Regions from separate parts of the Homo sapiens genome. Here region 2 is linked to region 1. Evidence: fine-mapped expression QTL. Tissue or cell type: whole blood. Region 1 holds a variant in brackets; the other region holds the start of a gene. All regions are shown on one strand. Distances are from middle to middle.

Evidence for each region. PIP is the estimated chance that this variant, and not a neighbour inherited with it, causes the effect.
Region 2: CFDP1 starts here. The variant in region 1 is fine-mapped to the expression of CFDP1 in whole blood (TOPMed, PIP above 0.99).

What each region holds. Positions count from the first base shown.
Region 1 is chr16:75,289,649-75,297,750 of GRCh38, forward strand. CFDP1 (craniofacial development protein 1) reads right to left here. Exons shown (of 7, transcript NM_006324.3): 7 at 4,062-4,394. The coding sequence ends at 4,304. Among named protein-coding and RNA genes, the nearest start is that of BCAR1, 42 kb to the left of the region's middle. The variant A/G (reference allele first, on the strand shown) is at 4,370.
Region 2 is chr16:75,428,827-75,436,916 of GRCh38, forward strand. It overlaps CFDP1 (craniofacial development protein 1), which reads right to left and starts at 4,677. Exons shown (of 7, transcript NM_006324.3): 1 at 4,463-4,677. The coding sequence starts at 4,526. LOC124903723 (tigger transposable element-derived protein 1-like) reads left to right here and starts at 6,378. Exons shown (of 1, transcript XM_047435019.1): 1 at 6,378-7,394. The coding sequence starts at 6,476. The coding sequence ends at 7,273. RefSeq lists silencers at 2,657-2,856, 4,113-4,352 and enhancers at 4,663-5,172, 4,716-5,283.

The DNA.
Region 1 (8,102 bases):
GGAGAGCAAGGGTGCAATCACAGCTTACTGCAACCTTGACTCCCTGGGCTCAAGTGATCCTCCCACCTCAGTCTCCCAAGTAGCTGGGATCACAGCCATGCACCACTATGTCCAGCTAATTTTTAAATTTTTTGCAGAGATAGGGTCTCGCTGTATGTTGCCCAGGCTGGTCTCAAACTCCTGGCCTCAAGCGATCTGCCTGCCTCAGCCTCTCAAAGTACTGGGATTACAGGCGTGAGCCACTGTGCCTGGCCGAAAAGGTGATTCTTGATTGAGGGCAAACACACTTTAATTAGTCCCACCCACCAGCCTGGTCTCGGTGGGTCCACTGAGAAAGGCTAGGCATTTGCTGAGGAGGCTCAGTCCTCTGAGCATGAGGTAGGAAGAGGATGGGACAGGTAGCAATGCTGGCTGAGAAGGTAGGTCCCACTGAGGGCACAGATGGGCTCAGGCAGCACAGATGACCGAGAGGAATACCCAAGAGTGGTCCATCCCCGTCTTAGGCACCCCCATGGACACCCACCTGCTTGGTCCTCTGCCTGGGTCACTGGCTGGTGCCAAAGGCCTGCTCCATTCTGCAGCCACAGCACCCAGCCCATGGGGATGGTCAGGCAGGGCTTGAGAAGACTCCTGCCTCCTGGGGCCTGGCTTACACCTACAAGAAACAGCCACCCATTTGTAGATACCCACTGCTAATGCCTAAGGACCCTCTCTTGCTGGCCAGTTCTCCTGTCCCTTGAACTTGATCCACAACAGTAAGGAGTAAAAACAAAGGGCCAGAGGAGGCCCTTCAGAGTCTGGGAAGATGAGGTGTCAGAATCTGCAAAGCTTGGTTTCCAAGTTGTTAAAACAGGCATAGTTAAGACCAGCCTGGGCAACACAGTGAATGCCCATCTCTACAAAAAATTACAAAGTTAGCTGGGTGCAGTGGTGTATACCTGTGGTCCTAGCTGCTTGGGAGGCTGAGATGAAAGGATCTCTTGAGCCCAAGAGGTTGAGGCTACAGTGAACCATGATCATGCCACTGCACTAATTGGGCAACAGAGCAAGACCCTGTCTCAAAAAAAAAAAAAAAAGAAGAAAGAAAGAAAAGAAAAACAGGCACAGGATCTTAGGAGGTAGAGAGGACCTCCTTCCTGTACCAGGGTCCCCTCTACCACACTCATGGCCATTGTAATCCCAACACTTTGGAAGGCCAAGGTGGGTGGTTCACCTGAGGTCAGGAGTTTGAGACTAGCCTGACCAACATGGTGAAACCCCATCTCTACTAAAAATACAAAAATTAGCCAGACGTGGTTGTGTAATCCAGCCAGGATTACACGCCTGTAATCCCAGCAACTTGGGAGGCTGAGGCAGGAAAATCACTTGAATCCAAGAGGTGGAGGCTGCAGTGAGCCAAGGTTGCACCACTGCACTCCAGCCAGGGCAACAAAGTGAGACTCCATCTCAAAAAAAAAAAAAAATTGTCAGAGGCTCTAAGGAAGGACTTTGATGTGCTCAGGCTGTTCTAGGAGAGTGTGGGCAGTCCCCCAGGGCTCACCTCCCCACCCTGCCTTGCCTGTTTTCCATGACACTCACTTTTCCAGCCTTCCCTACAGCTAGAGGCAGTTCAATGACCCAGCTATGGCCAGTGAGACATAAATGAAAGTCTGATATGAACCCTCATTGTAAGATGACACAGGTATACATAATACATACATACAGATGCACATGTATCAGTCAGAGTAAGTGGTTTATCAGTGAGATGAAGTGAGGTCAGTACAGGAGGCTTTTAAAGAGGTTCCATGTAGACCAAGAGAGTGACAGCTAAAGTCAAGGCAACCAGCACAGTTTAAAGTGGGAAAGTGTGAGACTCCGAAGCACGGATCTACAAATTGGGAAACAGGGCACCTGTAATAGGATCGATGCAAATAGCCATGTATTCCCTGACAGGCAGCCAGAATCTGTCAAAAAAGACTAGACTAGAGGGGCTTTCTAAAAGACTCATGGAGAGGTAATGGGTGATTGTGTGGAGGTCAGATGTGGGCAGCAACCCTGCTGGGAAAAGGGGCACCAATCAACAGACAGCAGAAAGGAACCGACCTTTCTCCAGAATCATGACATTAACTTAACACAGGTACAGATGGAGAAAACCTGTGGCGGGGGGCTGGATCCTGAACAAGAAAGGCAGGGCCCAAGCACACAGTTACGACTTTCACTGACACATCTGACTTCTCCTTTCATGGCTTGGAGCAAAACAGGAATAGCAAACCCACCTGTGAGAAGAACCCAGCAGGCTTTGCAGCTTTTGTCTTAATCCCTTAGGCTTCACAGGTGTTAACATTTGCTAAAAAGAAAAACCCTAACTTACTATGAACTCAGCACCATTCATTCTATTGGATTTCAGATCATTTTTCAAATAGGGAGAGAGCCAGCTCACGTGTTGCTGAGACACTGGCTGCTGAGATGAAGAACTTTGTGAAGCGCAATGGAAGAGGGACTCAGAACTCCAGAGAAGAGTTAGGGAAACAGTTGCCAAATGGTGGTGAATGACGGATGATGAGCCAGAGAGTACCATGTGGGAGGACATTCACATCAAATCTTGGCTGCTACCTCCTGAAGGTCTGGATGTCCTCTAATCAAAATATTGGCAGCTCTTAGGTTATTCTTTTTTTGTTTTTCAGACAGGGTCTCACTCCTTTTGCCCAGGCCGGAGTGAAATGGCACGATCTTGGCTAAGTGCAGCCTCAACTTCCAGGGCTTAAGTGATCCTCCCACCTTAGTCTCCTGAGTAGCTGGGACTACAGGCATGCACCACCATGCCTGGCTAATTTCTTTTTGTATTTTTGGTGAAGACAGGGTTTCATCATGTTGCCCAGGCTGATCGTGAACTCCTGAGCTCAAGCAATCCACCTGCCTCGGCCTCCCAAAGTGCTGGGATTACAGGCATGAGCCACCTGGCCCACCTTCCTCAGTTATTATGTCCCATTTGGGACCATAACTAAGACCTCGCAGGCCGCCTGTTGTGACGCTGGCCTGAAATGCTCTACAATCACTTAGAATTATTTATCAGAGGGGATGTGAATAGACATTGTGTTCAAATTTAGCTTGTAAACTACCTTTCTGAGTAATAAGATCCATAGCCCATAACCATCTAGTGTTGACAGTTGGGTCTTTGTTGCTATGAATTCCCACCACATTAGAGGCCTAGATTGGGAGACCTGCCATAAACTAGTACTCACACCCGACGGGTGTGTCATTAGCTTACTCCACCCCTTGGAGGTACTAGTGTTATTCATGCCATTTGCAGACCAGAAAATGGAGGCACAGAAAAATGACCTGTGGTCAGGGCCACAAAGCTGGTACAGCAAGAAATGGAATGCAGTCTTAGGTAACCTGTCATCACCCAAACCTGTCATGGTACTCGGGTAACACACATGCACATGCAGGCACACACACCAGAAGCAGGTTGTGGGGTTTCCCGCTTATTAATATGAATGGTCTCTATCCCTCTTTCCCTCTTCACTGAAGATGTTACTCTCTTACTCTCCTCCCTGCTGTTCTGCAAAGAATGTCTGACTCTAAGCAGGAAGTTTGAAATTTACATTTTCTTATGAGTATAAAAAAGAAAATCCTTCAGAATATTCTTTGACAAACTAAAAATTAATGAATTATTGAAGTGGGAGCATATCTGAATTTAACTTTTCTTTGGGAAGAGGAAAAAGGCTGAAGGGAAAAAACAGCTAATTCAGCAATAATATATCCTTATTTTCAGCCTTACATGCCATCAGTAGGAATCCATTCAGGAGAAAGAGAGATCAGAAGAGAAGCCCGAGTGGAAATGAGAACAAGCTGCGAAGGGGCCTGGCATTCCAGTCACTCTAGTGAGCCGCCTCCTCTAGGTCTTCGGGGCAAGGCTGGCTGCAGAAAGAGCCTCTTGGCCCCGGAAAATTCACACCCAGGTTGGTCAGCTATCTTCACCATGCCTGGCAAGACCTCTGCCAGCCTGGACAGACCTGGAATGTGCTGTCTTGAACTGGGTGGGACTTTGCGGCAGAATAAAGGGAAGGTGAGCGAGGTCGTCATCTTCATTATCCTCTCACAGGACCAACTTTTATTTTATTTATTCATTTAAGGACAAATTTTTAAAAGTAAAGTGAATGAAACCATTTGTGATTAAGATACATAGACAGAACTTCAATGTAGAAAAAAAAAAGACCTTGCTGGGAAACAGATGATGAGAAACACTGTAAAACATTTCACAGACGCACAAAAAGCTCACATTGTAAACAGGATTAAGCTGCTCTTGATTTAGCCCGTAACATCAAGGTTTCATTTTGCTCAGCCTGAGATCTCGCTCAATTTCAAACTGCCTGTGATCCACTCGGTC[A/G]AGGAAGGCTTTCCGTTCAATGTACCTAGAAGATGAAAACAGTGTTTGTCAGTAGAATCCAGTAGGAAAAACTCCTCCCCTGCACAGTCCCATCCCCCAGGGATAAACTAAGTTACAGTAAATGGTGCCGAGAGTGACCACCCATGACTCTTCCAGTACAATCCAAACCACTCACATTTGGTCTAAACAAGGATGGTGAAAATAAAAGGAAGGCAACAGCTTATCAATGAGAAAGTATATTAGAGGCTGGGTGGCAGGAAGATGTTGCAATTTTCTAACAAGACTTTAAGGGCAGAAGAAAGAATACCGGTTTACACAAGCATGGGTTCAAGTCCTAGCTCTAGCTCACTGATTAGCTGGGCAAAGGAATGAACATCTTTGAGCCTCACTTTTCTCTACAGCAGCATGGTGATGCTGTTTTTCTTGGCTTTAGTGGTGTGTTGAATTGGTGGGTAAGAGAAAGCTAGGCCTCCTGCATACATACATCAAAACATGAAAAGGGGGCATGTGGTAATGAAGGAAAGAAGACAGTAAAAATGACCTCACAGGACTGCAGTGAAGGTGAAGTGAGCTGAGGTTCATAAAGTGCACACTTTAGAAGTGATTTAACTGCTTTGAGCTCTTTTCTTCCCCTCATCCTTTTCTCCTCTCCGCAGTATCCTCCACCCTGTTTGCGTCTAGGTTGCTTCTGCTAAGATGACAGGAGAACTCTTTCCCTAAATGCCTCTAAGAGAATGAGTTTAAGGGCCTCTGATCTCTCCTTTCAAGGATCCCCTTGAAAGGTGGACACTCTGCTCCCTAATCTGGTTGGGTTCAGCAAACTTTCCCTCTGTCCTCCAGGCAGGACGGGAAAGCAGCAAGGGCTGAAGCACAGGCGCGCTTGCTAGGAGTGAGGCTGGCTGCTTAATGAGACACAGCTGCATCTTAATGCACCTCCTCACCATAAAGCGTGCTGCGATTTGCCTGGGCGGAGGAGATCTCTGCTGCTAATTAATCTATGGAGAGAGCAAAAATTGCCATGGAAAATGGGAGACAAAATTGAATCTCTGCACTAATTTTTCTTTTGTTGCACTGTGGAAAATATGCATCTGTCATTACAAAGTCATTACATTTATAGTGAGAATGCTACCAGGTTCAGAAACCTGTGTTCCCCTGCTGAGTCCAGGGCCTTGCTTTCCCTTCCAACAGCATCCTAGGAAGTACCATCCATCCTACCTCATTTCCAGCTAGGCCTGACTACCCTGACCCTTCTGGAGGGCTGGCCAGAAATGTACAGGCTCTGAGGCCAGAGGGCTGGAGGTTTGAGTTCTGTCATTTGCTGTCTGTGACTCTGCAAGTCACTTAACCTTGCTAGTTCTGTTTCCTAATCTGTAATAAAGATAATAAATAATGGCTAGTCATCTCCACTCTGAAGGACTGTTGTGTGGATTAAATAAAATAGTGTCTACATCACACAGGGCACAGAGCAGGTACTCAATAAAATGACAGGTAATGTTATCATGGTTTTAGGAAGCCAGCTTCCAACAGGCTCCCAAGGACAGTAGATGGCCCAAGTCTGGACTTATGGTTTCAGCAATGAGGAACCAAAACACCTGGTCTGGCTCAGGTACTAAGCTGCTGTGTCAAAACCGTCAATGAGGCCAGAATGGCTGGAAACACAATGACAGGGCCTGCTCTTAGGTTTGATAAAAGCCCTTGGGGTCAGGATTGTCAGATTTAACAAATAAAATTACAGGCTGCCTGGCTGAATTCGAACTTCAGAGTCCCTGGCAGTCAGGGAAGCTGCAGACAGCATGGACCCCTTTAGATAAAAAGAGAAAAAGGGAAGACAGGTAGGGAAGTGTAGACATCTAACAACAAACTTACTTCCCACCTCCCACTAAGAGACCCGTGATTCTTGAGTGGGGGCTGCTAACCAAAATGGTCTCAGAGGCACGTTCACTACAACTGGTCATCTTTCCACCCCAGCCCCACCAGCCCAAGGGAGGCTCACTACCACGGGGACCAGGATTTTGACAGCACTGCACTTTAACTGTCCCCTGGAAGTGCTAGCAGAAAAAAGAGAGGTGAGCCTCAGCATGAGATCTTGCTGTGCTGTTGTTCACCTGGGGGTGTAAGAGGAATTTAGGGTGTGTTTCAAGAGCCATCTTCCAGTGCTACCTGTCTGGGAGATCAGGTGGAGGGAAGGAGTAAGTATGTGGCTTTAAGCATTTGGGGTCTTTCTTCCTGACTTTATTTTTTTAAGACAGGGTCTTGCTTTGTGGCTCAGGCTGGAGTGCAGTGGTGCACAGTTCACTGCAGCCTCGACCTCTCAGGCTCAAACAATCCTCCTGCTTCAGCCTCTCAGGTAGCTGGGACCACAGGCACACACCACCACACCTGGCTAATTTTAAATCTTTTGTAAAGATAGGGTCTCTCCATGTTGCCCATGCTGGTCTCGAACTCCTGGGCTCAAGCGATCCTCACCTTGGCCTCCCAAGTGCTAGGATTACAGGTGAGAGCCATCGGGCCCAGCCCTGACTTTCCTGTAAATAAGAAGTGACACTTAAATGAGGATGCTAACTGGGTACGAATAAAGGTCCTGCACGTTCCCAGAAGCTGTGTTGGGTCCAGCTGACTTTGAGACTATCAAGAGTGAAGCCCAGGTTGGGTGCTAAACAGGCAGGTGCAGTCAGAGTTTAGGTTTAGGGAGGCCTCAGGCAGCAGTGAGGGGAACATGTGCAGGATGCAACTGAATTCTCAAGGGCAACCCAGACAAAGGCCATCAAGGCAGGTCTGGTGACTATTCCCCAATTCACAGCCATCTGCAGCTGCTAACAGGATGCCTGTGACGGCCTTGGTTTACTGCCAAGAGCTGACCATGAACAAAACTACTTGATATGGACTCTCCCACTGCCAAGAGACAGAAAAGGTACTAAGAATGACAGTAGCTCTGACATTTAGTTTTTGTGTGACTTTGGGCAAGATACTTAATTTTCTGTGCCTTTTTTTCCTTCTCTGTAAAACAGAATAACAATTACAATAACCCTCTGGCAATCCAATGAAACTGTGAGAAGTGCTTTGTATACAATAAAACAAAAAATAGCTATGGGAGTTGTCATGGGCTTGGGGTTCTTGCTTCCCATTTCTTGTGTGTGTGTGTGTGTGTCTGTGTGTGTGTGTGTGTGTGTGTGTGTGTTTTTAGTAGAGATGGGGTTTTGCCATGTTGGTCAGGCTGGTCTTGAACTCCTGGCCTCAAGTAATCTGCCCGCCTCAGCCTCCCGAAGTGCTGGGATTACAGGCGTGAGCCACTCTGCCCGGTCTTGCTTCACATTTCTTCTGACTTGACTTTACCTCTACAGAACCTCAAAACCCAGGGCAACCGGAACAGAGACCAAGAGACTAAATGTCCCTGAAAGAGGAAGGGCTCATTAGAAAGGCCACCTCCTCAAAGGTGGCCACTGAGACTCAGGACATTTTCATGCACTTTAAATGGGTCACGGTCCCAGAACAGACCCACCTGAGGACAAGTGCAATGGGAATCACGGCTCTTGCTCTTGATGTGTCCGGGTGCTTTTCTGGCCTGTGCGCAGCCCTTTTGGGGGCCCAGCATGACTCAGCCCAGTCCACAGGGAAGCCTAGTGGTGGGGGATGCATCATCCCTTTCTGCTTCCATTGCCTTCTGTGGCCCATTTAAGAGGCTCTTCACTTTCTTTAATAAAATATGCTAAGAACCTAAGGGATTTTCTAGTTT
Region 2 (8,090 bases), 140 kb after region 1:
TGGGAACAGGCCAGGCGTAGAGGCTCACGCCTGTAATCCCAGCACTTTGGGAGGCCGAGGCAGGCAGATCATGAGGTCAGGAGTTCGAGACCAGGCTGGCCAACATGGTGAAATCCCGTCTCTACTATAAAAATACAAAAATTAGCCAGGCGTGGTGGCATGAACCTGTAGTCCCAGCCACTCCGGAGGCTGAGGTGGGAGAGTTGCTTAAACCCGGGAAGTGGAGGTTGCAGGGAGCCTAGATGCCACCACTGCACTCTAGCCTGGACAAGAGAGACAGAGTCTGTCTCGAAAAAAAAGAAAAAAGAAAATGGGAACAAAGAGAATATTCTACCAGCTTCCGGAGACAAACAGATCTTATACATTGAGCAGAAATCAGTAACAAAATATTTATTAATAGCAACATGGGAATCTAGAAAGTAATGAAGTAACACTTTAAAATTCTGATGGAAAATTATTTCCAACCTAGAATTCAAACAGACAATCAATTACGCCTGAGGGGCATGGTTACTTTTAGGCATTCAAGGTCTCATAAGAATGTTCCTGACCAGGCGTGGTGGCTCACGCCTGTAATCCCAGCAGTTTGGGAGGCTGAGGAGGGCGGATCACCTGAGGTCAGGAGTTCAATATCAGCCTGGCCAACATGGTGAAACCCCGTCTCTACTAAAAATACAAAAATTAGCTGGGTGTGGTGGTGGGCACCTGTATCCAAGCTACTTGGGAGGCTGAGGCAAGAGAATCGCTCAAACCCGGGAGGTGGAGGTTGCAGTGAGCCAAGATCACGCTACTGCACTCCAGCCTGGGCGACAAGAGCAAGACTCTATCTCTAAATAAATAAGTAAATACACTGGAGTACTCATAGAAGGTAACCAAGACAAAGTGGAGGCCAGAAGGCAAAGACTGTTTCAGAAGATTAAAGTGAAAATCTAATGAATGTAAATATTTTGGGAGATGATTTATACAATTCTAAAAGTTTAGAGTCAAATTAGCAGTGTCGACGAAAAGAGTCAAACTCTTGTCAAGTATTTGAAGAGAATTATTCTGTGCCACATATGAGTAACCACAGCCCATGATGCAGCCCTCAAGAGGTCCTGAGAGCACGCGCCCAAGGTGGTTGGGGTGCAGCTTGGTTTTATATATTTTAGGGAGGCATGAGACATCAATCAAATACATTTGAGAAATATACTGGTTTGGTCCATTAAGACAGGACAACTCGGGGTGGGAGTGCTTCCAGGCTACAGGTAAATTTAAAAATTTTCTTGTTGGCAACAGGTTGAGTTTGCCTAAACAGAAAGGAATGTCTGGGTTAAGATAGAGGTTGTGGAGACCAGAGGTTTTTTTTGTTTGTTTGTTTGTTTTTTCGAGATGGAGTCTCACTCTGTTGCCCAGGCTGGAGTGCAGTGGCGCAACCTCAGCTCACTGCAACCCCACGCCCCTGGTTCAAGCAATTCCCCTGCCCCAGCCTCCGGAGTAGCTGGGATTACAGGCACACGCCACCACACCCAGCTATTTTTTTATATCTTTAGTACAGACAGGGTTTCACTATGTTGGCCAGACTGGTCTCCAACTCCTGACCTCAGGCAATCCGCCCACCACAGCCTCCCAAAGTGCTGGGATTAAAGGTGTGAGCCACCGCACCTGGCCACTTTTTTTTTTTAAATGGAGTCTTGCTCTGTTACCCAGGCTGGAGTGCAGAAGCATGATCTTCACTCACTGCAACCCCCACCTCTTGGGTTCAAGAGATCTCGTGCCTCAGCCTCCCCAGTAGATAGGATTACAGGCGCCCGTCACCACACTTGGCTAATTTTCATATTTTCAGTAGAGATGGGGTTACACCACGTTGGCCAGGCTGGTCTTGAACTCCTGACCTCAAATGATCCACCAGCCTCTGCCTCCCTAAGTGATAGGATTATAGGCTCGAGCCACTGCTCGGCTGAGAACACAGTTTTATCATACAGATGAAGCTTTTAGCAGACAGGCTTCAGAGAGAATAGGTTGCAAAATGTTTATTATCAGACTTAAAGTCTGCATCGATGTTAATGTCAGAGACATACAATGAGGCAGGTTCAGCCCCCACTTCCCATCATGGCCCAAAACAGTCTCTCAGGTTAAATGTTAAAGAGCCCTGGCTAAGGAGGAAGTCCATTCAGATGGTTGGGGGCGCCTTAGAATTTTATTTTTGGTTTACAGCAGTTAAGTACATAGACAGCTAAGTAGCAACAAAAAATGGCAATTATTAGCACCAGAGAAAACAAGAAGTGCAGGAAAAGTAATCTGTATAACATACGGTTCAGCTGTCAACATGATGTTTATTCACACTGTCATTAGAAAAAAAAAACACTGGGCCTGGCACGGTGGCTCACGCCTGTAATCCCAGCACTCAGGGAGGCCGAGGCGGGCAGACCATTTGAGGTCAGGAGTTTGAAACAAGCCTGGCCAACATGGTGTAACTTCGTCTCTACTAAAAATACAAAAAAATCATTCGGGTGTGCTGGCGGGGACCTGTAGTCCCAGCTACTCAGGAGGCTGAGGCAAGAGAATGGCGTGAACCCGGGAGGCAGAGCTTGCAGTGAGACGAGATCCCGCTACTGCACTCCAGCCTGGGAGACAGAGCAAAACTCTTGTCTCAAAAAAAAAAAAAAAAAAAAAAAGAAAAGAAAAGAAAATCGATCGGGTGTGCTGGCGGGCGCCTGTAATCCCACCTACTTAGGAGGCTGAGGCAGAACTGCTTGAACCGGGAAGGCAGAGGCCGCATTAAGCAGAGACTGTGCCACTGCACTCCAGCCTGAGCCACAGAGCGAGACACTGTCTCGAAAGAAAAAAAAACACTGAATACTGATCTAACTAAAACTGGACACAGGTTCAACGGCAGACTACGGAGTTGGGGAGGCCCCGAAGGTGGAAGTGTTTGTGTGTGTGTTTGGGATGAGGGGAAGGAGGTCAGGGGCTACTAAAAATGATACCTACTATACATGGGTTAAATCAATAGACAACAGAAATATAATACCAAATTCAAAAGGTGGAAAGAAGTTTCTCCTGAGGAATATTAAATAAAATAGGGATGAGGGTGATGGGACTGGCTAACTTTTTTTTTTTTTTTTTTGAGACGGAGTCTCGCTCTGTCACCCAGGCTGGAGTGCAGTGGTGTGATCTCGGCTCACTGCAACCTCCACCTCCCGAGTTCAAGCGATTCTCCTGCTCCAGCCTCCTGAGGAGCTGGGACTACAGGCGCGTGCCACCATGCCCAGCTAATTTTTGTGTTTTTAGTACAGACGGGGTTTTACCATGTTGTCCAGGATGGTCTCGATCTCCAGACCTTGTGATCCACCCACCTCAGCCTCCCAAAGTGTTGGGATTACAAGCATGAGCCACCGCGCCAGGAATGGAATGGCTAGTTTTCAACGTGCCTTTTAGAAATACTTCACTAGCCGGGGCGCGGTGGCTCATGCCTGTAATCCCAGCACTTTGGGTGGCTGAGGTGGGAGGATCACTTGAGCCCACGAGTTCGAGACCAGCCTGGGCAACATAGCAAGATGCCATTTCTAAAAAAAAAAAAAAAAAAAAAAATTTAAAAAATTAGCGGGCGTGGCAGCCTGCACCTGCAGTCCCAGCTACTCCAGAGGCTGAGACGGGAGGATCGCTTGAGCCCAGGAGTCTGAGGTTGCAGTGAGCCAAGATCGCATCACTGCACTCCAGCCTAGACAACAGCAAGACCCTGTCTTTAAATAAAACAGAACAGAACAAAGTAAAACAAAGAGAATAGGGACGACTCCTGGGTTGTGTTTTGTTAGTCTGTTTGTTTCTTGTTTGTCTAGTCTTTCAACTGAAGATGTGAATGGGTGAAGATACTTTCAACGAGACGGTTTGTCTGGGGAAGACCAAGAAGGGGGAACAGAAAGATTTCTTCAGTAAGATTCATTCTCACCCCGTTCGGGTTGAGATCCCTAAGGAAAGAAAGTTCTGAGAGGAGAGGATGGGTGGACGTCACAATGAGGCAAAAAGCATCAAAGGGGGAACTTTCTATCAGAACTTTCTAACAACCAGGCGGAGAGCGGACAGCTCTATCTTGGACGGGGTGGTGGCCAGCAGCTCTCTCGGGCCAGGGCTGAAAAAAACCTCCAAGGCTCGGACTGCCGCCCCGACTTCTGAAGCAGCGGTGTCGTTCGGGGCTGACCGACGAGCGTCCCTAGCGACAAGGGGCCGTGTCCATGTGCCGGTTCCCGCGCTGCAAGAGGGGGCGGCGGCCGGAGCTGCCCAACGGGAGGGGAGCACAGAACCGCCACGCGCACACGCCTCGGGCCGGAGCGGCCGAGGATGAGGGGCCTGAGGGAGCGGACGCTCGAGAACAGGAGCCCCCCTGGACCACCTGGGCCACAGGGCAGACGCCCGCGGGGGCAGAGCGCGCCTCACGTGAGGCGTGGGGCGGGGCAATTCGCTTCTCGCCTCAGGCGGAATCGCTCACCCGACGGCACGTAGTCCTCGTCCTCCTCCGACGTAGAGAAGTCTTCGGAGTCGAATTCCTCCATGTTGCTGCCGCTCGACGCTGGTCAAACTCACAAGACCGCAGCAGCCGCCTCCAACGGCAAAGCTCTAGGGAGAGACCATAGAGCCCCGGCGGCGGCGACGGCAGCTAGGGCGGCCCCCGACAGCGCTTTGCACATGCGCAGAGAGTACTACGTGGTTGCCCTACGACACTTCCGGCCGATGCCTCCGGGCTGGCGTCCCTGAAGCCCTCGCTGGGAGCCCGAACCCGCCCGGACGCGGTGCATGCTGGAACTTGTAGTCTTCGGCGCTGCCTCGCCGCCTTAATATAATAAACCTGCTTAAATAAAATTACATATCTATGGAAATACAGGTGACCTTCATTAATCATTAATTCGTAATGCCAAATTCACTTACTTGCTAAAATGTATTTGTAACCCTAAAATCAATCATCACGGTACTGTCTGGGGTTCTTCCCGGGCATGCGCAGAGGGTGAAAATTTGGAGTTGGCGGAGGTAAGGTTCCCAGCTGAAGTTTGAACTGGGAGAAGCGCCGCCTTCTAGTCGCAGCTCCTGTGCTGTAAACAAAGAGTCCTTTCCGCAGTCTGTTTACTGACACTTTTTTTTCTGCTTTTTGTGGGTGGTTTTGCTTTCTAAAATGGCCCCCAAGCGTAGTGCTTAAGCTCTGCCCAGTGTTCCTAAGCGAAAGAAGACCGTGATGTGCCTTACGGAGAAAGTCCGCGTGTTGGATAAGCTCCAATCAGGCATGAGTTACAGTGCTGTTGGCCATGAGCTCAATGTTAACGAGTCGACAATCCGGTACATCAAGAAAAAGGAAAAGGAAATTCACCGATCTGTCCGTGAGGCCGCTCCGGATAGTGCTGAAGTGACCTCCATCGTGCGTGATGAAGCTATGACAAAGATGGAAAAGATGGAAAAGCGGCTAAATTTGTGGATTCATGAGATGTCAATCGATTAAAAAAAACATAGTGGACAGCATTGTGGTGAGGCTGAAAGCCAAAGATATCTGTGGTCACGTTACCCAGAGTCAAAGAAATGCTAAGCCCTTCTCGGCGAGTGCTGGCCGGCTCGCGCGTTTCAAAAGGCGATACGGGGTGAAAAATGTTAAACTTGCAGGTGAGGCGAGCTCTGCAGATCAGGAGGCTGCGGAAGAATTTTAAAAATACTTGCTAAGTGTTATACAGGAAAAGGGTTATGTGAAAGAGCAGGTTTTCAATGCGGATGAGACTGGCTTATTTTACAAGGATGTTGGCAAACGAACCTATATAATGCAAACGGCCTCCAAAGCCCCTGGCTTTAAATCATGCCAGGATCATGCACCCTTGTTATTGTGCGCCAATGCCAAGAGCGACTAAAGTGCAAACTCCTAATGGTGTAAAGAACCCAAAATCCACAAGCACTTAACGGGAAATACGTGAACCATCTGCCAGTCTATTGGAGGTGGAACAAAAAAGTGTGGATGATGTCTGATTGGTTCCACAACTGCTTCATCCCAGAAGCTGAACACTGTCTCCAGGGCAGAAACCTTGCCTTCAAGGGTTTTTTGTTTTGTTTTGTTTTGTTTTTTGTTTGTTTGGGTTTGTTTTGTTTTGGTTTGGTTTTGAAACGGAGTCTCGCTCTGTCGCCCAGGCTGGAGTGCAGTGGCGCAATCTCGGCTCACTGCAAGCTCCGCCTCCCGGGTTCACGTCATTCTCCTGCCTCAGCCTCCCGAGTAGCTGGGACTACAGGCGTCCACTACCACGCCTGGATAATTTTTTGTATTTTCAGTAGAGACGGGGTTTCACCGTGTTAGCCAGGATGGTCTTGATCTCCTGACCTCATGATCCGCCTGCCTCGGCCTCCCAAAGTGTTGGGATTACAGGCGTGAGCCACCGCGCCGGGCACCTTCAAGGTTTTGTTAATTTTGGATAATGCTACAATCCATTGCTGCAAAGAACTCGAAAATGCACACGCCAACATAGGAGTTCTTTTTATGCCCCCAAACACTAAGTCTCTCATCCAACCCCTCAATCGGGGCATAATAAAAGCATTCAAGGCACACTACACAAGGGAGCTTTATATGAAGGCCTGTGAGGCTCTCAGGACCAACAAGGAAACCACCATGCTGGACTATTGGAAGTCGGTCACTACATGCAACGTTATTGATTATGTCAGTACAGCCTGGGAGAGCATTGGTCAGGCTACTACCAATAACTGTTGGGAAAATGTTTGGCCAGACTGCGTGGAGAATTTTGAAGGGTTTGAAGGTGTTACAGAAAATATAAAGAACACTGTCAGAGACATAATGCATATGGCACAGCAGGTAAGTGGAGAGGGCTTTGATGACGTGAAGGAAGGAGATGTGGAGTACATTTTGGCAGAGAAGGCAGTGGAACCAACCAACGAAGACCTGGATGAGATGGCAAAAGAAGGCATTGGAGTTGATGGCCATGAAAGTCGGCCCAAGACTTCCAGAATTGTCCCTCTCACAGCGCCAAAATATCAGAATGGAGTTCTGCCTTGGAAAAAATTTTTAGCGACATGGAAGAGTGTGACCCTACGCTTGATCGAAGCCTCAAATTTAAATGGCTGGCCTCCACTGCGTTTGCCCCTTATACCGAGATGCTTAAAGATTTCAGGCAGAAAAGCCAGGCAGGCAAGGCTAATGCAATTTCTCAAGCCAGTTTGGGAGGGAAGATTGCCCACTCCTTCAACAAGTGTCAAGAGCCAGACTCCTAAGGTAGAAATGCCAGAGGTTGACCTGCCACCCTCTTCCTCTTCTGCAGAATAAATTTCACTCACCCCTCCCCTGGTTTCTGTGGGGCAAGCCAAGGTCGAGAGGTTTAACCACATTGTGCAGCTCCATCAACCGTAAGATTTTAGTTGATATTTTTATAAAACTTAGGATGCTCCATCTTTGAACTTTTTCCCTTTATTTGTATTGCTGTACTGTAGGGTATACAGTATGTGTGCAAAGTAGTGTATGTGTTTACTGTGGGAACTGTACAGTATGTTATACTGTTGACTGTATATGGGAACTATATGTGTGTACTCTGTGTGTGCCAATGAAAAGGTTGTACAGGCTGGACGCGGTGGCTCACACTTGTAATCCCAGCACTTTGGGAGGCTGAGGTGGGCGGATCACAAGGTCAGGAGTTCAAGACCATCCTGGCCAACATGGTGAAACCCTGTCTCTACTAAAAATAGAAAAATTAGCTGGGTGTGGTGGTGGGCGCCTGTAATCCCAGCTACTCAGGAGGCTGAAACAGGAAAATCGTTTGAACCTGGGGGTCGGAGGTGGCAGTGAGCCAAGACCATGCCATTGCACTCCAGCCTAGACAAAAGGGCAAGACTGACTCAAAAAAAAAAAGTAGTGCAATCTCAGTACACTAGAGTACATTACACCAAACTACTGTCATTGAAATTTTATTGTAAATACTGCAGATTATTTTTAAGAAATACATATTAAATAAGGTGTCTTTGAACAGAAACACACATAAAACAAAGTTACATACCGATCAGTTGACAAAAGTGTTGACCAGAGGTTCACAGGAACCTAACCCTGTATTTCTCCCAGGACCCATGGTTCGGTTTTTGCTAATTCAATG